2 separate regions of the Homo sapiens genome follow, and region 1 is linked to region 2. Evidence: fine-mapped expression QTL. A gene starts in region 2. The other region holds a variant in brackets. All regions are shown on one strand. Distances are from middle to middle.

What was found. PIP is the estimated chance that this variant, and not a neighbour inherited with it, causes the effect.
Region 1: its variant is fine-mapped to the expression of PRTN3 in liver (GTEx, PIP 0.97).

The regions. Positions count from the first base shown.
Region 1 is chr19:1,629,169-1,637,168 of GRCh38, forward strand. TCF3 (transcription factor 3) reads right to left here. Exons shown (of 19, transcript NM_003200.5): 4 at 3,164-3,237; 5 at 2,870-2,948. Among named protein-coding and RNA genes, the nearest start is that of TCF3, 19 kb to the right of the region's middle. The variant G/A (reference allele first, on the strand shown) is at 4,036.
Region 2 is chr19:832,003-848,351 of GRCh38, forward strand. PRTN3 (proteinase 3) reads left to right here and starts at 8,997. Exons shown (of 5, transcript NM_002777.4): 1 at 8,997-9,067; 2 at 11,459-11,624; 3 at 11,891-12,032; 4 at 14,145-14,375; 5 at 15,797-16,173. The coding sequence starts at 9,007. The coding sequence ends at 15,967. It overlaps AZU1 (azurocidin 1), which reads left to right. Exons shown (of 5, transcript NM_001700.5): 5 at 1-16.

The DNA.
Region 1 (8,000 bases), 790 kb after region 2:
TGCCCTTCCTGAGCCTCAGTTTCCTCTGTTTCAGGCGTTGAGGGGCTGATGCCCTGGGGTGCTGGGGTCAGAGGCATTTGTCTGTCCCAGGGGACAGGCCTGGGGGCCCTGGCGGGGAGCCCCGGGGCCTGTGCACACCGCATCAGGTTCACCGCACAGGCTCCCCCAAAGTGCCCAGCATTCAGCCTTCAGGCCAGGGTTCATTCGCGAATGAGCACGTGACCTGCACCCCACCAATGAGCACTTCCCTGGGGCGCTCAGTGACAAAGGACAGGTGAGGCCTCGGGGCTACGGAGGGGGTCAGCTGGCCAGGGCGAGCCCCCAGCATGGAAGGCCTGGGCTACGGAGGGGAACAGCTGGCCAAGGCGAGCCCCCAGCATGGAGGGCCTGGGCTACGGAGGAGGACAGCCTGCCGGGGCGAGCCCCCAGTGTGGAGGGCCTGGGGCTGATGCGGTGACACCTGGATCCAGCCTTGCCTGAAGCAGGCACCCCGATTACTCAGGACCTGAGCCACTTAAATCCCCTTCTGGCTGACACTGGGCACGGAATGTGACTGGGGCTGCTGTGAGGGGCTGGGACGCGCGATCGAGTAATGTACATTATTCTCAAAGCAGGAAAAAAATTTCCCGATTTTTGAATTTTAAAAGTTCAACGATTTCCCAACTCCTGGAACAAATGCTGCTGTTTTTTGCCTCCCGTTTCCTCATCTTGGTGACCCGGGGGGACATGGGGAAGATGACAGCCACGACCCACCCCACAGGCCACACCCGGCCACAGCAGTCACTCGCCCGGCTCCTCGGGTGAGAAAACTGAGGCCATAGGAGACTGAGGTTATGGCAAAAGCCCCCCGTGCCTCCCCGGGACCCCCGCCTGCCCTCTCCAAGCTGCCTGGCTATGGCCTGGGCCCCACCCGTGGGGGTGGCAGGTGGGACATGGCTGGGCTCTGGGCATTGCTGGCCGGGCCGTGGGAACTGCCCACGTCAGCCCTGCCCACCCTGGGGCCATCGGGGGTATGAGGAAGAGGCTGGGAGGAAGGAACAGCCAGTGAGGAACCAGGCTCCCAGGTGCAGGGGCCACCCCCGGCAGGGGGGCGGGGCCAGGCCTCACCTACCCCGTAAGGGGAACGGGCAGAAATCGCCCGTGGCACGTGGTGGGCCCTCAGACACACCCGCCAGACCTTCACGCTATTCGCTTCCTACTCAGGACACCAACTGACTCTACTGTACTCCAAGTTCGAGGCCGGGCAAAGCGAGACAGGACCGTCCCTGCCCCGCTGTGGGGCCCAAACAGGCGCTGCCCCTCAGGGTCCAGGGAAAAGGCTGGGTCGGCCAAAGTCCTCCGGGCCTCAGTTTCCCCGCAAGCCAACAATGCCGAGGGGTACACGGTGAGCACCTGGGCCCCGCAGCAGGTCCAGTGCCCCACAGCTCCCGGCTTCTAAGCAGCGCACACCCCCACTGCACCACGAAAAGCCAGCAGAAACACTGCCTCAAACCGTCGGGTTCCAGAGAAGGGAAGGATCCCGCATCCCAGGATGACTGAGGGATGAAACCACAAATTCCACAGCTGAGGCACTGGGGCAGGAGGCTGACCACGACAGCGGGACCCCTGAGGCCCTTACCAGCCCCCCAAGCAGCGGGACCCCCCCAAGACCCCTACCTGAGCCCCCGAACCCTGGGGCACAGGACTTGACACTCCCGCAGGAGGCGGAGCATGTGAAGCTCGGGGCATTTCCTGTGTCACCCGCAGGAGGGACCGCACACGGGACACTGTCCCAGTCGCAGCCCCAGGTGCCTGGAGGAGGGCGTCCCAGTCAGCCCCACCCAGCCGCAGACCCCCGGCCAGGGTGCCCTTCCCAAGCGTCGGTTCGTTCCCCTGCAGCACGGGTGAGCCTGCAGCGGGGCTGGAATATACCCAAGACCAGGCACCAACCCCCACCTGGCATTGGGCAGGGCCTGCAGAGCTGGGTCAGTCCTCACCGCCTCCCTCCAAGAAGGTTCTGGGAGGGTCCCTTTCCCACAGTGGGGAAACTGAGGCTCAGAAGAGGATGGCGCTTGCCCAGGTTCCGTGGTGGGGTGGGACCAGACACCAGGCCTGAGTCTTCATTCTTTTTTTTTTTTTAAGATGGAATCTCGCTCCATCACCCAGGCTGGAGGGCAATGGCGTGATCTCGGCTCACTGCAGCCTCCACCTCCTGGGTTCAAGCAATTCTCCTGCCTCAGCCTCCTGAGTAGTTGGCACTATAAGCATCCAACACCATGACCGGCTAATTTTTGTGTTTTTGGTAGAAGCGGGGTTTCACCATGTTGGCCAGGCTGGTCTCAAACTCCTGACCTCAGGTGATCCACCCACCTCGCTCTCCCAAAGTGCTGGTATTACAGGCGTGAGCCACCGAGCCCAACCTGAGTCACGATTCTCTCGGTTAACAGGAGGGCCCCCCAGGGAAAGAGGGCGGGCGGGCGGTCTGCGGAAGGGCATGGGCTCTGACCACCGCACACTCTGGCCGCCCTCCCGAGTCTCCAGAACTCCTACGCCTCCTTCCCAGCGGGCACAGGCCAGCCCGGCTGACCCCTCCCCGGGAAGCAGGAGGAGCCCTGCAGAAATCCCAGGGAGGAAGTGGGGTCTGGAACGGCCTCCCTGCCTCTACGCTCAGGCGGGGAAGCCTAGTTGCAGAGTGCCGTGCCAGGGAGTCCGGGCCACGTCCCCTGCACCTCCCCGCAGCTGCTCCCAGGACGGGCAGAGGCTTCGGCTGTCCACACCCTCTGGGTGAACGCTGGGGACTTGCCTGGCGCTGTGCGTGCACTGACCATGCCAAGGCCCACGTCTGCACATCTGTGCACAGCAGAGGGACCGCACCAGGCCAGGCACTCACCTCCGAGTCCCGGTCCCAGGAATGTGGATGAAGAGAGGCTGCTGTGCGACTCAGTGAAGTGGGTGCCCTCGCTGAAGGTCTAGGGGAGATGGGGTGGGGATGAGAGGTGCTGGGGCTTCACAGGCCCCCCCTCCACCCCGCATTACAGCTGGAGAGGCAGGACTCAAACCCATGTCCCCCAGTCCAAACCCCTGGAAGGCTGGCCCCTTCTCTCAGCCTCAGTTTCCCCACACCCCTCGCCCCCAACTCTGGGGACAGGAAACTCAGGGTCTCAGGCCTCACGGGGACTCCTACCCGGCTGGGGTCAAAGGAGGAGCTGCTCTGGTCGCCGCTGCCCCAGGAGCCTGAGCTGGGCCGGTCCTCAAGACCTGCAGGCAGGACAGAGAGAGTTATGGGTCACCCTCACGCCTGCCCAGCTCTAAAAGCTTCGGTTCATCATCTCAGGGGCAAACCTCAGTGGACCCGGGGGGCTTGTGGAACCCTTCCTAACCCAGCCTCACCCAGCCCGACTCATGAGGACACCAGTCAGCAGCTAACACCCAGACACCCTGGGACTCGGAGCACTTACAGGTCCATAAACTTAAATTAACTCTTCCGTCGGCTCTCTGCTGGCCAACTCCTACCCACCCACTAAAGCCCCAGCTTTCATACCCTCCTTGGGCAAAGACCTCACTCTCACGCCGAGCCTCCTCCCCATCAGCCCCAAGTCCCTCCCTCTGGCCCAGCCCTGACTATGTGGACTGGGGTCTCTGTGTCAGATGCAGACTCTTCTGACCCTGTGAGAAAGGCTCATGACAGCATGAGGGTGTGGAAGCTAACCCATGAGCTCTGGGGAGGCCCAGGGTCTCCCTGTCCCCACCTGCCAGTGTGGGAAGTGGGGCCGCCCTTTGCTGAAGCAGCAGCAGAGGCTCACCCATCGGGCAGGAGGCTGGCAGCCCGTGAGGGTGGAGCCGAATCTCATCACCCAGGAACAAGCCCAGTGTGGAGACCAGAAGCCTGCGTGGGGCAGGAGTTCCCGGCGCAGCAAGGGACGGGACGAGGACCTTGGTCCCGGGGCGGGGCGGGCGGGGCCCTTATCTCTCAGAACACTCACAGGCAACGCCCAGGACTCCAGAATCTTCTGCCCTGGGCAGGGAGGGCCTGCTTGGATCCTTCCCCCTTCCATC[G/A]GGGGCCACAGAGCACACCCGTGGAGAAGCAGGAGCGGGCCCTGGGCCTCCTCAGCTTGGCCACGGAGTTGCTGCCCTGCCTTGGTTTCCCTCTCTATAAATGATTTACAAACAGGCCCTACTTTTGCAGGGCTGGGGGTGTCCATGTCCAACTCCCAAGTCCAGAGGCTTCCCGAGAGCCAGGCCTGGGGGACCCAGCCCAGTGCTGATGTCTGTGACCGGCACCACCTCAGGCTGTTCTGCAGGCTCCCCCGCCCCGCCCCCTGCCCTCCCTGCTCATCCACACCAGAAACTTCTTTCAAATCGCATCCTTCTATTTCGGTGCCTTTGTGTTAATCATTCCCCCCGGGGAGTATTGGTGTTTAATTGCTGTCTGATTTGCATAATTATGCATATTAATCTCCAAGTCTAATGAATATTCATGCGCCTCATTTAGATTTTGTTTTCTAATCAAAAATTTCCAATGTGATTATGAGTGGGGGGCTGGGATGCTGCCTTGGCTGGGTTGGGGGCCAGGCAGGGGGCTCCTGTGGTCTCCAGGAATCCACACGGCATTCGCTGCCAGGTCTGGGCCATCTGCACCCCAAGATCCTGGTCCTGCACGTGGGCCCTGGTGAACAGGGCAGCTGCTGAGGCCAGGGTGGGCTGGCTGTGTAGGGGTGGGCACAGCGCCGGCACCCTCTGGGTCTCAGTTTGCCTCTATACCACCTGCATGTTGTCTGGTCCCCTCCGGCCATAGCCAGTACCCCAGGAGGTGCAGAGACCCCCAACTGAGCAAACGGGAGGCTCCTGGCACCCCAGCCCTCATCCCCTGGAAGGCCTGGTGTGGTGGGGGACCTCCTGGGGCCCCATGCCCAGGGATCGCCCCCGAAGTTCACTCCAACAGGCCTGTGCCAGAGGCACTGCGGCCTCAATCTGCCCTTTGGGGGAACCCTCCCTCACCCAGCCTTGGCCTCCTCCTAGAAATGACAAAAATAAGGACAGCCCCCACATTAATACAGTTATTAAAATCCCCCCCACCGATTAATGATGCATTTTAATAACCCACCATGAATATTCATAATGCATCCATTGCTCCTGTTCTAATTAAAATGTACTAATAGAATAAGACACTGCTGTCAGAGTGTGGTTTTCTGTGATTTCTTTGGTGAAGCACCGCAGAGTTTTACCCGGGAAGGGCACCTTCCTGCCCTGGGCCAGCCTGGCTGCCTCGGGAGAGGCCTGCGAGTGGACGGCGCAGGGGCGCTGGGGAGAGGGCCCCAGGAGCGGCCCACCCCTTGGGCTTCAGTTCCAATTCCAGTCACGGGGTGTGGAAGCCGCCCACCTGCCTGGGCTGCCGTGAGGATAACAATGAAAGATGCTGCTTCAGAGAGGCCATCCGTAGCCAAGGAATGCTCCAGGCTGGTGGTTTCCCAGTCCCGGTCCCTGTTGGGTCCCCTCCTGAGAGGGACCGGGGACTGGTCTTTGCCTGGTGGCTCGTTGGCAAATGGGAGAGGGAGGCTTCAAAAGGCGCTTAGTAAATACCGGGTAGGACTGAGATTGGTCTGCAGCAGGGATCTGCAAACAGTACACAAGGACCAAGTCTGGCCCCTAAGCTGCTTTTTAAATAAAGTTTTATTGGCACACACTATGCCCGTTTGTCCATGTACTATCAACGGCTGCTTTTGCTGCAACAGTAGAGTTGAATCAATTCCAATAGAGACCATCTGTCCTGCACAGCCAACAATATTCACTCCTTGGTCCTTTCCGGAGAAGGCTGGCTGACCTTGATACAGAAAAAGACTGTCCAAGTGCCTTCAGCTGCCTCTGCACAAGAAACCCAATCGACAGACTTCAGTACCAGGAGTGGGGTTACCATGCCGGGCAGGCAAAACTATTGGTGGACACGGGCCCTGAACACAGCCCTGTGTACCGCCCCTGCCAAACCCTCAGGCACACCACCAGGTGGTCTGGCTTCAGATGGGCCTGGGGACTTCATCCTATAGCCCCAGCTCTGCAATGTGCCCCCACTCAGGTGCTCAGGCTAAAGTCCTGGGAGTCCTCCTCACCTTCCCTCCTCCCAAAGAACAGCAGCTTGCCCCATAGCTACAGCAGCGGGTTAAGCCCAGTCCCTGCAGCAGCTTCCTTCCAAGTCTGCTGACATCCTCAGGCAGCCGGATGGAGCCTTTAGAAGCAAAACTTGGCTCTTCTCCCTCCCTCTACCCTCTCTCATGGCTCCCCACCGTCCTCAGGATAAAGACCAAACTCTTTCCTGATCTCACCACTCTCCTCTTCCCCAACACAGGAGGTGACCCCCACCCACACCCCCTGCCTGAGCCCCTTCCCAGCCTGGGACCCCTCTTTGTCTGCAGCACTGCCTGGAACACAGCTGACGCCCCCAAAACACCCACCCTCAACGTCTTCATTTTACTCATAAATAACTGTGCTTCCAAGAACATTTTCCTGGAGGATCAAAATATTCTCCACCTCTGCTGTCCAATACGGGGACCACACTACCAACTGCTGGAAACGTGGCCAGCATTTTTTCAAGCACATTAAAAATTACATTTAAAAATGTGTATATGGCTAATGCCTGCTGTACTGAACAACCCAGTCCCCAAAAGCAAATGAAATAACAGCCACCACCAAATACCACGGTCACGTCTAAAAACCAATTAACACCTCGACAGCTCCTCACGCAGGTTCCGTTTACTCGGGAGTAGGAGCGGGCCACCCGATACAGGGTCACTATGACCCCCCAAGCCCGTGCCTCGCCCCGTCTCTTCTTCCTCCTTATAATTAAAATCGTGAAGGACCCCGATGGCAGCCTGTCCCACCGCCCTGCCTGGGTCTGGCCCCTGCAGCTTGTGATGCTTCTCAGACCCATTCCCAGCCCCTCTGGGGGTCATGACGGGTGAGATCAGACAGAGGTTTGAATCCGGGGGTGGCCTTTCCTTGGGTGGAGCAGTATTTTAAAAAATTTTTTTTTTCTTTTGCTTTGAGACAGGGTCTTGTTGCCCAGGCTGGAGTGCAGTGGTGCGATCTTGGCTCACTGCAACCTCCGCCTCCTGGGTTCAAGTGATTTTCCCGCCTCAGCCTCCCACGTAGCTGGGACTACAGGAGCCTGCCACCACGCACAGCTAATTTTTGTATTTTTAGTAGAGACGGGGTTTCATACATGTTGGCCAGGCTGGTCTTGAATCCCAGACCTCAAGTGATCCGTCTGCCTCAGACTCCCAAAGTGCTGGGATTACAGGCATGAGCCACAACGCCTGGTGAATTTAAAAAAATTTTTTTGTAGAGATGGGGTCTCACTACATTGCCCAGGCTGGTCTCAAACTCCTGGACTCAGGCGCTCCTCCCACCTTGTATTTCCCAAAGCCCTGGGGTCACAGGCGTGCACAGCCTCCATTTTATCTAAATTCAAGCTATGGGAGAAGATGAAAGACCAGGATGCCCTCGGCCCAGCTCGCGCACTGCAGCCGCCCTGGGTTTATCTTCCTGTCGTGTCTTCTTGGTCAGGGCCCGCAGGCTGTGTAGCACATGCTCCCAGCTTCTGAGGAGGATCCCGAGTGGGGGAGAAAATGCTTCTGGGGCACCACAGAGCCCTTCCTTGTTGGGGGGCTGACGAGATCCCGCAAAGCCTCCCACTTCGATCTGCCTCTAATGTCTGGCGATGGGGGGTGGGACAGCAGGGCCCTGTGGCCCGCCCGCGAGCAGACAAACCTGAGGCTGAAGAGAATGTGAGTGGAGACCACACACCACCCTAAGAGTGGGGGTCCCCACAGCACCTAAAGTGGCAGGACGTGCCCTCGGGTAGAGGCACAGTGAGGCTGTGCGGGCAACACAGGCAACCTCCTCCGCCAGAACCGGGGACGCCTCGCAACCTCCTCCACCAGCACGGGGGACAACCTCCTCCGCCAGAACCGGGGACAACTGGCAACCTCCTCCACCAGAAGCGGGGACAACCTCCTCCACCAGAACCA
Region 2 (16,349 bases):
CCGATCTCTCCTCTGCTCCTGGTTTCTGTTCATTGGTGGGGGAGGGGGCTGTGGGGACGCGTGAGTGGCACCTTCACCGGCCTTAGGGGCACCCACCGCAGGTGCACTGCCTGTGCAGATGTCAGATGTTCAGAGATTCCCTCAAAGCCCGGGAAGCAGGGGCTGGTGTTATCTGCACCCGACAGCGGGGTGTTGGGGGGAGGCCCAGGTTCAGAGAGGTTGGGTGGCTGCCCAGAGGTCACACAGTGAATGCCGCCCAGCACTTTGGGAGGCCGAGGTGGGCGGATCACCTGAGGTCAGGAGTTCAAGACCAGCCCGGCCAACCTGGTGAAACCCCATCTCTATAAAAATACAAAAATTAGCCGGGCATGATGGCGGGCGCCTGTAATCCCAGTTACTTGGGAGGCTGAGGCAGGAGAATCACCTGAACCCGGGAGGCGGAGGTTGCAGCGAACCGAGATGGCGCCACTGCACTCCAGCCTGGGCGACAGCGAGACTCCAGCTCAAAAAAAAACAAAAACCACGGGAGAAAACGGGGAACATTCTCCTCTTGGATCCAATAGAAACAGTAAAACGTGAATATGAAATAATAAATATAATTGTATATATAAATAATACAGAATAAAATATGAATATGATGGCTGGATGTGGCAGTCACATCTGTAATCTCAGCACTTTGGGAGGCCAAGGTGGGAGCATCGTTTGAGCCCAGGAGTTTGAGACCAGCCTGGGCAACGTAGTGAAACCATGTCTCTACAAAAATAATTTTTAAAATTATTAAAATTACACAGGAGAGGCCGGGCACAGTGGCTCATGCCTGTAATCCCAGCACTTTAGGAGGCCAAGGCGGGCGGATCACGAGGTCAGGAGATCGAGACCATCCTGGCTAACACGGTGAAACCCCGTTTCTACTAAAAATACAAAAAATTAGCCAGGCGTGGTGGCGGGCGCCTGTAGTCCCAGCTACTCGGGAGGCTGAGGCAGGAGAATTGCTTGAACCCGGGAGGTGGAGATTGCAGTGAGCCGAGATCACGCCACTGCACTCCAGCCTGGTGACAGAGCAAGACTCCGTCTCAAAAAAAAAAAAAAAAAGCCGGGTAAGTGGCACCTGTCGTCCCAGCTACTCTGGAGGCTGAGGTGGGAAGATTGCTTGAGTCCAGGAGGTGGAGGTTGCAGTGAGCCGTGATCGCACCACTGCACTCCAGCGTGGTCCACAGAGCAAGACCCAGTCTCTTAAAATGATAATAATAATAATAATAATAATAATAATAATAATAAGAAGAAGAAGAAGAAGAAGAAGAAGAAGAAGAAGAAGAAGGAAGAAGAAGAAGAAGAAGAACCTGTAGTCTCAGCTATTGAGGAGGCTAAAGTGGGAAGATCACTTTAGCCCAAGAGGTTGAGGATGCAGTGAGCTATTTTTATCTCATTTATTTATTTATTTGAGACAGAGTCTCCCTCTGTCACCCAGGCTGGAGTGCAGTGGCGCGATCTCGGCTCACTGCAACCTCTGCGCCCCCAGTTCAAGCAATTCTCCTGCCTCAGCCTCCTGAGTAGCTGGGACTACAGGTGTGAGCCACAATGCCTAGCCAATTTATATATATATATTTTTTAGTAGAGATGGGGTTTCATTATGTCGACCAGGCTGGTCTTGAACTCTTGAATTCAGGTGATCTACCCATCTCAGCCTCCCAAAGTGCTGGGATTACAGGCGTGAGCCACCGCGCCTGACCTTATTTCATTTATTTTTGAGACACGGTCTTTCTCTGATGCCCAGGCTGGAGTGCAGTGGCGTGATCAAGGCTCACTGTAGCCTCAGCCTCCCAGGCTTCAGCAACCGTGCCCGGCCTTAGAATTCACTCTTTTAAAGTGTGTACAGCCGGGCGTGGTGGCCCACACCTATAATCCCAGCACTTTGGGAGGCCGAGGCTGGCAAATCACCTGAGGTCAGGAGTTTGAGACCAGCCTGCCCAACATGGTGAAACCCTGTCTGTACTAAAAATACAAAAAATTAGCCTGGCATGGTGGCATGCACCTGTAATCTCAGCTAGTCGGGAGGCTGAGGCAGGAGAGTGGCATGAACCCGGGAGGCGGAGCTTGCAGTGAGCCAAGATTGAGCCACCGCACTGCAGGCTAGGGGATAGAGTGAGACTCTGTCTCAATAAAATAAAAAATAAAATAAAATAAAATGAAGTGTGCAATTCAATGGTCTTCGGTACACTCACAATGTTGTGTGGTCATGACCTCTGTTGAGTTCCAGAATATTTCATCACCGCCAAAGGAATCCCTGTCCCCATCAGCCGTCACTCCCTGTCCCCTCCCCAGTCCGCGGCACCCACGCGTCCTCTTCCTGTCTCTGTGGATGGGCTTGTCCTGGACATTTCATAGCAATGGGATCACACACTATGTGGTCTTTCGTGTCCGGCGTCTCTCACGGAGCGTGACGTCCTCACGGTGCCTCCGCGCCGTGGTCGGGTCACAGCTGGGTCCGTTTCACGGCTGCGTCCTGTTGCCACGCCTGGAGGCCTCACTGTGCTGCTCGAGGCCCCTGTGGATGGACGTCTGAGCCTCTCCACTTCCGGCCACTGTGACCCTCACTGCTGTGGACACTCATGTGCAGGTTTGTGTTGGAACTGCTGCTTTTCTTTCTTTTGTGGGTATAACGGGTCCTTTTTTTTTTTTTTTTTTGAGACGGAGTCTCGCTCTGTCGCCCAGGCTGGAGTCCAGTGGCGCGATCTCGGCTCACTGCAACCTCCACCTCCCGGGTTCACGCCATTCTCCTGCCTCAGCCTCCCGAGTAGCTGGGACTACAGGCACCCGCCACCGTGCCCGGCTAATTTTTTGTATTTTTAGTAGAGACGGGGTTTCACCGTGTTAGCCAGGATGGTCTCGATCTCCTGACCTCGTGATCCGCCCGCCTCAGCCTCCCAAAGTGCTGGGATGACAGGCGTGAGCCACCGCGCCCGGCCAACGGGTTCTCTTTACAGAGGGGGAAACTAAGCCTAGAGAGGGGTGCCAATGGCTCAGGAGCCCAGCCGGTGGGGGCCCTGCCTGGGTTTGGAGAGGCAAAGCCACTGCCTGATCATTGTTCAGATGGGGAAACTGAGGCCCAAGGCAGGATTGGGGTTCAAGGGCTTCTGGTGCCCCCGGCTCGGGGCCACGTTCGGTCATGAGGGTCCCCCTGCTGGGGCGGGATTCCTGCCAGAGGCGGTTTCTGCCCTCCTCCCCCCAGCCCCTGCTGCTCCCCCTTCCTGGGCCCAAGGGTGCTGTTCTCGGGTTCCCCTGGTAGCGGTCAGCCCGGCTGCAGGGCCCTCAGAGCGGGGCTGCGTGTGACTGTGGGCAGCCCGAGTCCTCTCCGCGCCTCGGATTTCAGGGACATAGAACGGGGTCCCATCCGTGGACCCACCCGCCACCCCGCAGCCCCGTCCAGGCCCCGACGCGTGCAGCCCCCACCCCGCAGCCCCGTCCAGGCCCCGACGCGTGCGTGCAGCCCCCACCCCGCAGCCCCGTCCAGGCCCCGACGCGTGCAGCCTCCTGGCAGAGCCAGCTGTGCTCAGGCTAAAAACAGCTGTTCTGTTTCTTCTCTGTGCCCCTCTACCCGGCCCCACTCACTGGTGTCTTGAGAAGGTTTTTAAATTTTCGGAATTCTCAGAACAGATTGTGAAATGTCTGGGTTTGGCTTAGAAATCCCGTGAGAGGGGGCATCAGGGGACAGGTGGGTGGATGGGCCTGGGGGGTGTGGAAGGCGGCCGGGTGTCAGGGCCCCAAGCACACGGGAAGGTCAACGGTCGGCACAAAACACACACAAAACACAACCACTGCGAGGCTGAGCCTCGCGGGCGAACCAGCATCTTCCCGTCACTCAGGGAGAGAAGGTTTTCCTTTATAAAGAGGAGAGGAAAGGAGGCCGGGCACAGTGGCTCACGCCTGTCATCCCAGCACTTTGGGAGGCCGAGGCGGGTGGATCACCTGAGGTCAGGAGTTCGAGACCAGCCTGGCCAACATGGTGAAACCTCGTCTCTACTAAAAATACAAAAATTAGCTGGGTGTGGTGGTGGGCGCCTGTAATCCCAGCTATTCAGGAGGCTGAGGCAGGAGAATCGCTTGTACCCAGGAGGCGGAGCTTGCAGTGAGCCGAGATCGCGCCACTGCACTCCAGCCTGGGCAACAGAGCAAGACTTCATCTCAAAAAAAAAAAGAAAGAAAGAAAGAAAAAGAAAGTAGTAGAGGAGAGAAAAAAGAGAGAACAAGAAAGATGGAGAGACAGAGACGGACAGAGACACAGAGACAGAGAGAGACGGAAAAAGAGGGACAGAGCCAGAGAGACTGAGAGAGATAGTTTTAAAAAAGGGAGACAGCGATGACACAGAGAGACACAGACACAGACACAGAGATGAAGAGACAGACAGATATAGGGAGACAGAGACAGACTGAGACAGAGAGACAGAGACAGAGGGAGACAGAGACAGAGACAGAGAAGGAGACAGAAAGAGGGCGGGGAGAGAGACAGAGACAGAGACACAGGCCTGAGCCCCGCATGGGTCTCCCCTCGGCCCCAGGCGGCGTCACCTGCGATCCCTGAAGCCGTTACCAGTTGCGCCACCTACGGTTGGTACAGGAAGGGGCCCCCACTACCTCTGCCCCCAGGCCGACCCCTGCAAAGCCCCCAGCGTGTTCCACGGAACCCTCCCTGCTACCCGCTCCCAGCGCTCCTGTCGCCCTGGCCTGTGCTTTTGAGTCCCCCCAGGACGCACAGGGAGCCTGGAGGACCCGGGGCCCGCGGGACGGTGCTGGGACCCTCCGGTCAGGACCGGGCTGCATCAGCCTTGCGTGGAAACAGATCCTGACGGGGAAGCCCACGTACAGTGAGGACGGGGCAGCCCCCTGGGCAGCTCTCGCGTGTGCTAGATCCAGCAGTGTGTGTGCAAGGTCTTTCTTTTCTTTCTTTTCTTTTTTTTTTGGTTGACAGCTTTATTGAGATGTCCTTCACACACACCAAGCAATTCACCCACTTAACAATTCGGTAGTGGCCAGATGGTGGGGGAGGATCGCTGGAGCCCAGGAGTTCCAGACGAGCCTGGGCAGCATAGCAAGACCCCTCTCTATTAAAAAAAAAAAAAGGCAGGGCGCGGTGGCTCACGCCTGTAATCCCAGCACTTTGGGAGGCTGAGGCCGGCGGATCACCTGAGGTCAGGAGTTCGAGACCAGCCTGGCCAACATGGTGAAATCCCGTCTCTACTACAAATACAAAAAACAAATTATTCAGGCGTGGTGGCAGGTGCCTGTAATCCCAGCTACTTAGGAGGCTGACGCAGGAGAATGGCTTGAACCCAGGAAGCCAAGGTCACACCACTGCACTCCAGCCTGGGTGACAAGAACAAAACTCCATGTAAAAACAAATCAAGAAACCTCAAATCCGTCGACCCCCACTGCTGCCCTGCAGAAGGTCCTATTACCGTCCTCACCCGCCTTTACAGGTGGGGAAACTGAGGACTGCAAGCCAAACAGCTTGCCTCAGCATGAGCTGACTCATGGCTGAAACCAACAGCACTTTTGTTGAATGAGAATAACCCTTTTATTTTGAGACGGTGTCTCGCTCTGTTGCCCAGGCTGGAGTGCAGTGACGCGATCTCAGCTCACTGCCCCCTCCACCTCCCGGGTTCAAGTAATTCTCCTCCCTCAGCCTCCCAAGTAGCTGGGATTACAGGCATCTGCCACCACACCCAGCTAATTTTTGTATTTTTAGTAGAGTCGGGGTTTCACCATGTTGCCCAGGCTGGTCTTGAACTCCTGACCTTGTGATCCATCTGCCTCAGCCTCCCAAAGTGCTGGGATTACAGGCAACAGCCACCGCGCCCGGCCACAGCTCTAGTTCTTTTTCTTTTTTTTTTTTTTGAGACGGAGTCTCGCTCTGTCGCCCAGGCTGGAGTGCAGTGGCACAATCTCTGCTCACTGCAAGCTCCGCCTCCCGGGTTCACGCCATTCTCCTGCCTCAGCCTCCCGAGTAGCTGGGACTACAGGCGCCCGCTACCACGCCCGGCTAATTTTTTGTATTTTTAGTAGAAACGGGGTTTCACCGTGTTAGCCAGGATGGTCTCGATCTCCTGACCTCGTGATCCGCCCGCCTCGGCCTCCCAAAGTGCTGGGATTACAGGCGTGAGCCACCGCGCCCGGCCCACAGCTCTAGTTCTTTAATACACATCAGGTCGGTCATGGTGGCTCATGCCTGTGATCCCAGCATTTGGGGAGGTCAAGGCAGGAGCGTCCCTGAAGGCTGGCAGTTCAAGACCAGCCAGGGCAACATAGCAAGACCCCATTTCTACAAAAAATTAAACAGCCAACCAAAAAAAAAAAAAAAAAGAAAGAAAAACTTTAGCTGGACATGGTGGAGCATGCCTGTGGTCCCAGCTACTTGGGGGGTTGAGGCAGGAGAATTGCTTGAGCCCAGGAGGTCGAGGCTGCAGTGAGCCATGATTACACCACTGCACTCCAGCCTGGGTGACACAGCCAGACCCTGTCTCAAAAAATATATATGTATATTTTAAAATATTATATATTATATAATGTAAATAATATACATGCTACATATTTTATGTATACATCTATGTTATATACATTAATATAGCCAGGTGCAGTGGCTCACACCTGTGTTCCCAGCACTTTGGCGGGATTACGGGCGGGTCACCTGAGGTCAGGAGTTCGAGACCAGCCTGGCCAATATAGTGAAACCCCGTCTTTACTAAAAATACAAAAAAAAAAAAAAATTAGCCAGGCGTGGTGGTGGGCGTCTATAATCCCAGCTATACAGGAGGCTGAGGCAGGAGAATTGTTTGAACCCGGGAGGCGGAGATTGCAGTGAGCTGAGATCGCACCACTGCTCTCCAGCCTGGTGACAGAGCGAGACTCTGTCTCAAAAAAAAAAAAAAATCCAAAGGGGAAAACAGTAACTGGACAGTGCAGGAACCGGCAGATGCCCTGACCACGTGGTCAAGGTTATTACCATCAGCACGAGACAGGCCGAAGCCATGGGCTTCGACGTGGGGGGCCTGAGACAGACACACGCCACGCCCGGGACTCCCTCCATTGAGTCCTGAGGCCACCCAGGACCATCCCCACGGAGGGACGCTCTGCAGAGTGACCACCAGCTCTCCTCAATGGTCCCAAGGGCTGAGGGAGGGCAGAGGGACTGCGCCCGCTGGAGGAGACCCTGACATCTGAAGATGGGTGGCTTGTGTACCCAGGACCCAGCAAAGGGTGGCTGGTGATACTCAGGGGGCTGGGGCAGAGGGGGCCATTTGGAATCAACTTTCGCGCCCTGGCTTCGATCACAGCCTGGAGGGTTGAGCAAGAGGACAGAATTTAGGGAAGCTGGGGGAGGGAGGCCGGGGGAGGGAGTTTGGGGAGCGGGGAGGGAGTTTGGACCCTTTGGACTTCTGTAAGCGTGAAATCCTTTCCAAATGAAACGTTAAAAAGCTTTTTTTCTTTTTGGCCTCCAAGTTCATTCAGTGCTTCTCTCCATTTCACTGTAGGTTTAAACCGTTCAGTTATAAATAAATAATTTTATCCTCTGTCCTCGGCTTTCCCCCGTTTCCGGCACTGCAGACATGGGGGCTGGATTTGTCTCTGCGGCGGGGCCATCCTGGGCACTGCAGGGCCCTGCCAGGAGCTCCCTCCAAGTCGTGACAACCACGGATGTCTCCAGGCCTCACACAGGGACCCCTGGGGGCAGAATCACCCCAGGGTTAGAGGATTCCACAGACCCCAAGAGACTCTGAGTCCCATGATCCTCTGCCCTGCTGAGGTCCCAGGAGGCTGCACACATTGAAATCCACACCCTGAGTGGGAGGGAGAGAGGAGGCGAGTCCCGGGAGCTGGGGTCCCCCGGGTTTATGCCGTACGCCCCATCGGGAGTTTATTCTGGTGTCCGGTGTGAGCAGGGGGCAGACTGGATTTTTTATTTTTTATTTTTATTTATTTATGTTTTGAGATGGAGTCTTGCTCTGTTGCCCAGGCTGGAGTGCAGTGGCACGATCTTGGCTCCCTGCAACCTTCGCCTCCCAGGCTCAAGTGATTCTCCTGCCTCAGCCTCCTGAGTAGCTGGGACTACAGGCGCCCGCCAACACGCGCAGCTAATTTTTGTATTTTTAGTAGAGATGGGGTTTCACTATGTTGGCCAGGCTGGTCTTGAACTCCTGACCTCAGGCGATCCACCCGCCTCGGCCTCCCAAAGTGCTGGGATTACAGGTGTGAGGCACCGCACCTGGCCATTTTTTTCCCCAAATAATGAACACTGGTCTCTCCCCTGGGCCCTGTGGACATCGGGGCTGGATCCTTCTCTGGGGCAGGCCCGTCCTGGGCACTGCAGGGTGCTAGGCATCATCCTTGGCCTCCACCCACTCCATGCCAGGAGCTCCCCTTTCGTGACAGCCACAGGTGTCCTCAGACCTCGCCCAGGGTCCCCTGGGGGCAGAATCACCTCTTGATTGAGAATCCTGGCCTTAAAGGGGGAAGAAAACCCCCAGACAAAACTGGCAGGAGGATGTTCGCTGGGGCCTCAGGTGAGGCACTGAGGGCACTCGTGGTGGGGCCCTGCCTTCCCGAGCTCTGCATCCTGTCCCCTGCTACGTCCTGCTGTCTGTCCGTTTCCAGCTCACCCACCCACGGGACACACCTGCCACGGCCGGCTTTGCTGGGGCCACAGGGACCTCGTCAGGGAGGCGTCTCCTTGTGGGTGGCACGTGGGCATGTGTTGCTCTGAGGGCTGTGGCCATGTTGCCCACCTGGCCAGGGACCCCCGACTTGGGTGGGTGACAGCCAGCCTCCCCGCCCCCACAAAGGTTGGGACCTTGAGCCCAAAGCCCCCACCTCCTCCCCGGAGTCCGTTCTGACTCCCAGGCTCCCAAGGCAAAAGGAGGAAGTGGGGACCCAGCCTGGGCATTGGGCAACTCAACGGCCTCTGGCATTGGGCTATAAGAGGAGCTTGACCGTGGGTGCACCCTGGACCCCACCATGGCTCACCGGCCCCCCAGCCCTGCCCTGGCGTCCGTGCTGCTGGCCTTGCTGCTGAGCGGTGAGTGAGCCACGTGCCCATCCATCCAGCCTCCAGGCCCCGGTGGATTGTGGGGAAATATCCACCACGAGGTCCATCCAAAGCCCTTCTGGCACAGCTGGGGAAACTGAGGCAGGGTCAGGGGAGACTCCACTCACTGCTCGGGACCAACGCTTGCAGGGGTGGGGAGGACAAGGGCAAGGGGGAGCCCTGGCCATTTGACTCAGTTGCCTATCTGTAAAACGGGCAAAACCCAGCCCTTCCCTCCTGAGGAGCTGTTTTGGGAATTAGCTAGTAACAGGCGAATTCCTGGACAGCACCCAGCCTTCAGCAAATGCTCAGTGAATATGCATGAATGAATGAATGAGTGAATGAATGAGTGAGTGAGTGAATGAGTGAACAAATGAATGAGTGAATGAATCAATGAGTGAGTGAATGAATGAGTGAATGAGTGAATGAGTGAACGAATGAATGAGTGAATGAATCAATGAGTGAGTGAATGAATGAGTGAATGAGTGAATGAATGAGTGAATGAGTGAATGAGTGAACGAATGAATGAGTGAATGAATGAATGAGTGAGTGAGTGAAAGGGTCGAGGAGTTAGTGATGCTGGAATCAGGGGAAGAAGAGAGCATGGGCCCCCTCAGGTCCCTATCCTGAGGGTGATTTTCTTTTTCTTTTTCTTTTTTTTTTTTTTGAGACGGAGTCTCGCCCTGTCGCCCAGGCTGGAGTGCAGTGGCGCGATCTCGGCTCACTGCAAGCTCAGCCTCCCGGGTTCACGCCTTTCTCCTGCCTCAGCCTCCCGAGTAGCTGGGACTACAGGCGCCCACCACCATGCCTGGATAATTTTTTGTAATTTTTGTAGAGACGGGGTTTCAAGGTGTTAGCCAGGATGGTCTCGATCTCCTGACTTCGTGATCCGCCTGCCTCAGCCTCCCAAAGTGCTGGGATTACAGGCGTGAGCCACCGCGCCTGGCCCTTTTTTTTTCTTTTTTGAAACGGAATCTTGCTCTGTCGCCCAGGCTGGAGTGCAGTGGTGCAATCTCAGTTTACTGCAGCCTCAGCCTCCTGGGGTCAAATGATTCTCCTGCCTCCGCCTCTTGAGTAGCTGGGATTACAAGCACACACCACCACACCTGGCTAGTTTTTGTATTTTTAGTAGAGATGGGGTTTCACCACGTTGGTCAGGCTGGTCTCGAACTCCTGACCTGAGGGGGATTTTCAATGCCTCAGTTTGTTCATCTGCAAAATGGGTCTCTTTGTTGGCTGATTTTTTTTTTTTTTTTTGCTTCTTTTTTTTTATTTTGTTTTGTTTTGTTTTTTTGAGATGGGGTCTCACTCAGGCATGAGCCACTGCGCCCAGGATTTTTTTTTTTTTTTTTTTTTTTTGAGACAGAATCTCACTCTGTTGCCCAGGCTGGAGTGCAGTGGTGTGATCTCGGCTCACTGCAACCTGTGCCTCCTGGGTTCAAGCGATTCTCCTGCCTCAGCCTCCCAGGCAGCTGAGATTACAGGTGCGAACCACCACACCTGGCTAATTTTTTTTTTTTTTTTTTTTGAGACGGAGTGTCATTCTGTTGCCAGGCTGGAGTGCAGTGGGGCGATCTTGGCTCACCACAACCTCCGCTTCCTGGGTTCAAGCGATTCTCCTGCGTCAACCTCCGGAGTAGCTGGGACTACAGGCACGTGCCACCACGCCCAGCTAATGTTTGTATTTTTAGTAGAGACAGGGTTTCACCATGTTGGCCAGGATGGTCTCCATCTCTTGACCTCAGGTGATCCACCCACCTCGGCCTCCCAAAGTATTGGGATTACAGGCGTGGGCCAACCGCACCCGACCAATTTTTCTGCTTCTTTAAAAACATTTTTTTAAATTTTGTTTTAGAGACAGGGTCTTGCTCTGTTGCCCAGGCTGGAGTGCAGTGGTGTGATCTCAGTTCACTGCAGCCTTGACCTCCTGGGCTCAAGCGATCCTCCCTCCTCAGCCTCCCAAGTAGCTGGGACGACAGGTGCACACCACCATGCCTGGCTAATTTTAAAATTTTTTGTAGAGATGGGGTCCTCACAATTTTGCCCAGGCTGGTCTTGAACTCCTGAGCTCAAGGGAGCCTCCTGCCTCGGCCTCCCAAAGTGTTGGGATTACAGGCGTGAGCCACTGCACCCAGCCACCTGGTCTGCGTCTTAAAAGCCTTCCTGACTCTCAGGACTGAAAGCTGCCACCAGGGCGCCTTTGGAAATCGTCGTAATTATAACCCCCCCGGCCTGGGCGCTGAGTCCTTCCCACCAGCCAGCAGGCACTGACCGGGTTGCAGATCGGGAGACGGAGGCTCGGAGAGGCCCAGGGGCTGCTCTGCCATCCCCCCTTTCCCTGCAGCCTGGGGGCTCCCTGACGCCTGGACTCCCCCCCTGCAGGTGCTGCCCGAGCTGCGGAGATCGTGGGCGGGCACGAGGCGCAGCCACACTCCCGGCCCTACATGGCCTCCCTGCAGATGCGGGGGAACCCGGGCAGCCACTTCTGCGGAGGCACCTTGATCCACCCCAGCTTCGTGCTGACGGCCGCGCACTGCCTGCGGGACATGTGAGCGGCCGCCTCCACACCCCTGTCCGCCCGCCCCGCCCTCTTCCTCCAGCCCTGGCCCGGCCACTGTCCCTCTGCCCGGGGAGGACCCAGCTAAGCCCCGTCTGCAGACCCCAGGCCCCGCGCGCGTGGGCAGTTCTGGGGGGAGGCCCGGGGCAGGGTCGCCGAGGGAGGGGTCTGGGGCTGCACCGCGGCCTCGGGAAGGGCCGGCTGTGGGCGGCGGCGAGTGTCCAGGGCGCCGAGGAGTGACCACCCCACCCCCGCAGACCCCAGCGCCTGGTGAACGTGGTGCTCGGAGCCCACAACGTGCGGACGCAGGAGCCCACCCAGCAGCACTTCTCGGTGGCTCAGGTGTTTCTGAACAACTACGACGCGGAGAACAAACTGAACGACGTTCTCCTCATCCAGGTGGGCGGGCAGGGCCGCGAGGGCTCGGAGGGGCACGGCCAGAGGGCTCCGGGACCCCCATTCCTGCAGCCAGCATTCATTGAGCACCCACTGTATACCGGGCCACGACCGAGGCCGCTGCAGCCTGGGTCCAGTGGCACTGGCCGGGGGAGACCGCTCCTTGGACACCAGGCCACTCCTCCTCCCCGCCTCTCCCCCGCCCGCGCCTCTCCCCCGCCCGCGCCTCTCCCCTGCGCGCCTCTCCCCCGCCCGCGCCTCTCCCCCGCCCGCGCCTCTCCCCCGCCCGCGCCTCTCCCTTGCCCGCCCCTCTCCCCTGCCCGCGCCTCTCCCCTGCATGCCTCTCCCTTGCCCGCCCCTCTCCCCTGCCCGCGCCTCTCCCCTGCGCGCCTCTCCCCTGCCCGCGCCTCTCCCCCGGCCGCTCCTCTCCCCCGCCCGCGCCTCTCCCCCGCCCGCGCCTCTCCCCTGCGCGCCTCTCCCCTGCCTGCCCCTCTCCCCTGCCTGCGCCTCCGCCCGGTGTGCTGTTCCCCCAGAAAGCCAGGTGCCCTCGCCTCCTCCGGCGCCTCCCCTGACCTCACTGGAAGTGGCGAGGACAGCCACAGCCCTCCCCGATTCACTGTTCTCCACTGAACCGCGTGCTCCTCTCATTCATGGGGCCCTCCTAGCCTCCTCCCACCCAGAAAGATCAGCTCCCCAGGGCAGAGGATTTTTGTCTGTGTTGTTCGTTATTGGACTCATGTGGCTTAGAACGGGACTGGGCATACAGGTGGTGCTCAGTAAGTGCTTGGGGCTGGGCACTGTGGCTCACGCCTGTACTCCCAGTACTTTGGGAGGCTGGGATGGGAGGATCACTTGAGGCCAGGAGTTTGGGAGCAGCCTGACCAACCTAGTGAGACCCCATCTCTATAAAAGACATTTTTTTTTTTTTTTTTTTTAGACAGAGTCTCACTCAGTCATCCAGGCTGGAGTGCAGTGGTGCAATCTCGGCTCACTGCCACCTCTGCCTTCCAGGTTCAAGTAATTCTCCTGCCTCAGCCTCCTGAGTAGCTGGGATTACAGGCATGCACCAACACGCTTGGCTAATTTTTGTATTTTTAGTAGAGACGGTGTTTTGCCACGTTGGCCAGGCTGGTCTCGAACTCCTGACCTCAAGTGATCTGCTCTCCTCAGCCTCCCAAAGTGCTGGGATTATAGGAGAGAGCCACCGCGTCCAGCCTACAAAAGAAAAATTTAAAAATCAACCGGGCATGGTAGCACACGCCAAGCCACTCATGAGCTGAGATGGGAGGATCACTTGAGCCCAGGAGGTTGAGGCTGCAGTGAGCTGTGATCATGCCACCACACTCCAGCCTCGGCGACAGAGCAAGACCCCATCTCAAAAAAAAAGTGCTTTGAAGATGAATGAATGGGCCAGGGGCGGTGGCTGTAATCCCAGCACTTTGGGAGGCCGAGGCGGGCGGATCGCCTGAGGTCAGGAGTTTGAGACCAGCCTGATCGATATGGCAAACCCCGTGTCTACTAAAAATACAAAAATTAGCTGGGCGTGACGGCAGGTGTCTGTAGTCCCAGCTACTTGGGAGGCTGAGGCAGCAGAATTGCTTGAACCCAGGAGGCAGAGGTTGCAGTGAGCCGAGATTGTGCCACTGCACTCTAGCCTGGGCAACAAGAGCGAAACTCCATCTCAAAAAAAAAAAAAAGAAAAGAAAGAAAGAAAGAAAACATGAATGAATGGCCGGGCACTATGGCTCACACTTGTAATCCCAGCACTTTCGGAGGCTGAGGAAGGCAGATCACTTGAGGTTGGGAGTTTGAGACCAGGCTGGCCACCTCACCCAATGGGATGGCTCCGGGAGGTTCCAGTGAGCCGAGATCACGCCACTGCATTCCAGCCTGGGTGGCAGAGCAAGACTCCATCTCAAAAGAAAGAAAGAAGGAAAGAAAATGAATGAATACAATAGTGACAAATGGGACAAAGGGGGTCGTGGGGCCCAGGCGGAGGGAGCGGCATCCGCGGCGTTTTGAGGTGGTGGGTGTGGTGGGTGTGGTGGGAGGGCGGCCCGGGCGGCCACCGTGACCTGGAAGCAGCGTCTCACCGCCGCCTGCCTTCTGCCCCAGCTGAGCAGCCCAGCCAACCTCAGTGCCTCCGTCGCCACAGTCCAGCTGCCACAGCAGGACCAGCCAGTGCCCCACGGCACCCAGTGCCTGGCCATGGGCTGGGGCCGCGTGGGTGCCCACGACCCCCCAGCCCAGGTCCTGCAGGAGCTCAATGTCACCGTGGTCACCTTCTTCTGCCGGCCACATAACATTTGCACTTTCGTCCCTCGCCGCAAGGCCGGCATCTGCTTCGTAAGTAACCGTGCCCCCACCCCGGGCACCGGGCTGCCATGAGGGGAGGAGGGCGGCGGCCAGGGTTCCACGCCACCTCTTAGCTGTGTGGCTTCATGCTGTGCCTCAGTCTCCCCACCTGGAAGGTGGGCACACCCAACACCCAACGGGCAGGCTCAGCGGGGTGGGGGCGCTCACATTGCACCTGGCTGCTTGGGTGGGTCTGGGGGTTCCCTGCCCCCCACTCCCCTCTAGGACCACAGGAAGGTGTGGGAGACCCATCCGCCCTCACCGGCGGCCCCTTCCAGAATCCAGGACTCCAGGTATCCAGCGGGAGGCCCATAAATGCCCAGTTCCTACGAAAGACCTCAGCCCCTCCCTGCTCACACTTTTTGTTTGTTTTTGAGACGGAGTGTCGCTCTGTTGTCCAGGCTGGAGTGCAGTGGTGAGATCTCAGCTCACTGCAACCTCCACCTCCCAGGTTCAAGGTATTCTCCTGCCTCAGCCTCCTGAGTAACTAGGTGCACAGGTACCTGCCACCGTGCCTGGCTAATTTTTTTGGTATTTTTAGTAGAGATGAGGTTTCTCCATGTTGACCAGGCTGGTCTTGAACTCCTGGCATCAAGTGATGCCTGGCTGGTGCTCACACATTTTAAAGAAAATTCCAGGCCAGCAGTGGTGGCTCACGCCTGTAATCTCAGCACTTTGGGAGGCCAAAGCGGAAGGATCTTTTGAGTCCAGGAGTTCAAGACCAGCCTGGGCAACATAGCAGGGTGGCATCTCTACAAATAATTTAAATATTAGCTGGGCATGGTGATGTGAGCCTGTAGGCCCAGCTACTCAGGAGGCTAAGGCAGGAGGATCACTTGAGCCTGGGGAGTTCGAGGTTGCAGTGAGCTATGATTGTGCCACTGCACTCCAGCCTGGAGAACAGAGCGAGACCCTGTCTCGAGAGAAAGACAGCCAGCTACTCGGGAGGCCGAGGCAGGAGAATCACTTGAACCCGGGAGGCAGAGGTTGCAGTGAGCCGAGATCACGGCACTGCACTCCAGCCTGGGTGACAGAGCGAGACTCTGTCGCAAACAAAACAAAAACAAAACAAAACAAAACAAAAGGAGAAAGAAAGAAAGAGATAGAGAGAGAAAGAAAGAAGAAAGAAAGAAAAAGAGAGAAAGAAAGAAAGAAAGAAAGAAAAAGAAAGAGAGAGAGAGAGAGAGAGAGAGAGAAAGAAAGAAAGAAAGTTCCATATTGGAAGCATTTTATTCTGAAACAGCTGTGGCTACCCCAGCCCCCTTCCTGGCTGCCTGGGGCCAGCCCGGGTGACTGGCTGTCCCCATCCTCCCGGGAGACTCAGGTGGCCCCTGATGGGTGACTGGCCGTCCCCATCCTCCAGGGAGACTCAGGTGGCCCCTGATGGGTGACTGGCCGTCCCTGTCCTCCAGGGAGACTCAGGTGGCCCCCTGATCTGTGATGGCATCATCCAAGGAATAGACTCCTTCGTGATCTGGGGATGTGCCACCCGCCTTTTCCCTGACTTCTTCACGCGGGTAGCCCTCTACGTGGACTGGATCCGTTCCACGCTGCGCCGTGTGGAGGCCAAGGGCCGCCCCTGAACCGCCCCTCCCACAGCGCTGGCCGGGACCCCGAGCCTGGCTCCAAACCCTCGAGGCGGATCTTTGGACAGAAGCAGCTCTTCCCCGAACACTGTGGCGTCCGGGACGGCCCCACCCGTCCCCCCACACTCCCTCCCACGGGGCTCCGGGAGACAGGCCGGCCCTGCACCTCACCCCACCGTGACCTCAATAAACGTTGAAACTCCCCCTGGCTCCTGTCTGTCCTTCCCATATAGGGAGGGGAGGGGGAACTGCCCACCGTGACCTCAATAAACGTTGAAACTCCCCCTGGCTCCTGTCTGTCCTTCCCATATAGGGAGGGAACCAGGGAGAGGTCCCCTGGGTTCAAGTCCCCGAGCCCCAAACTCAGGATGGGGGGAGT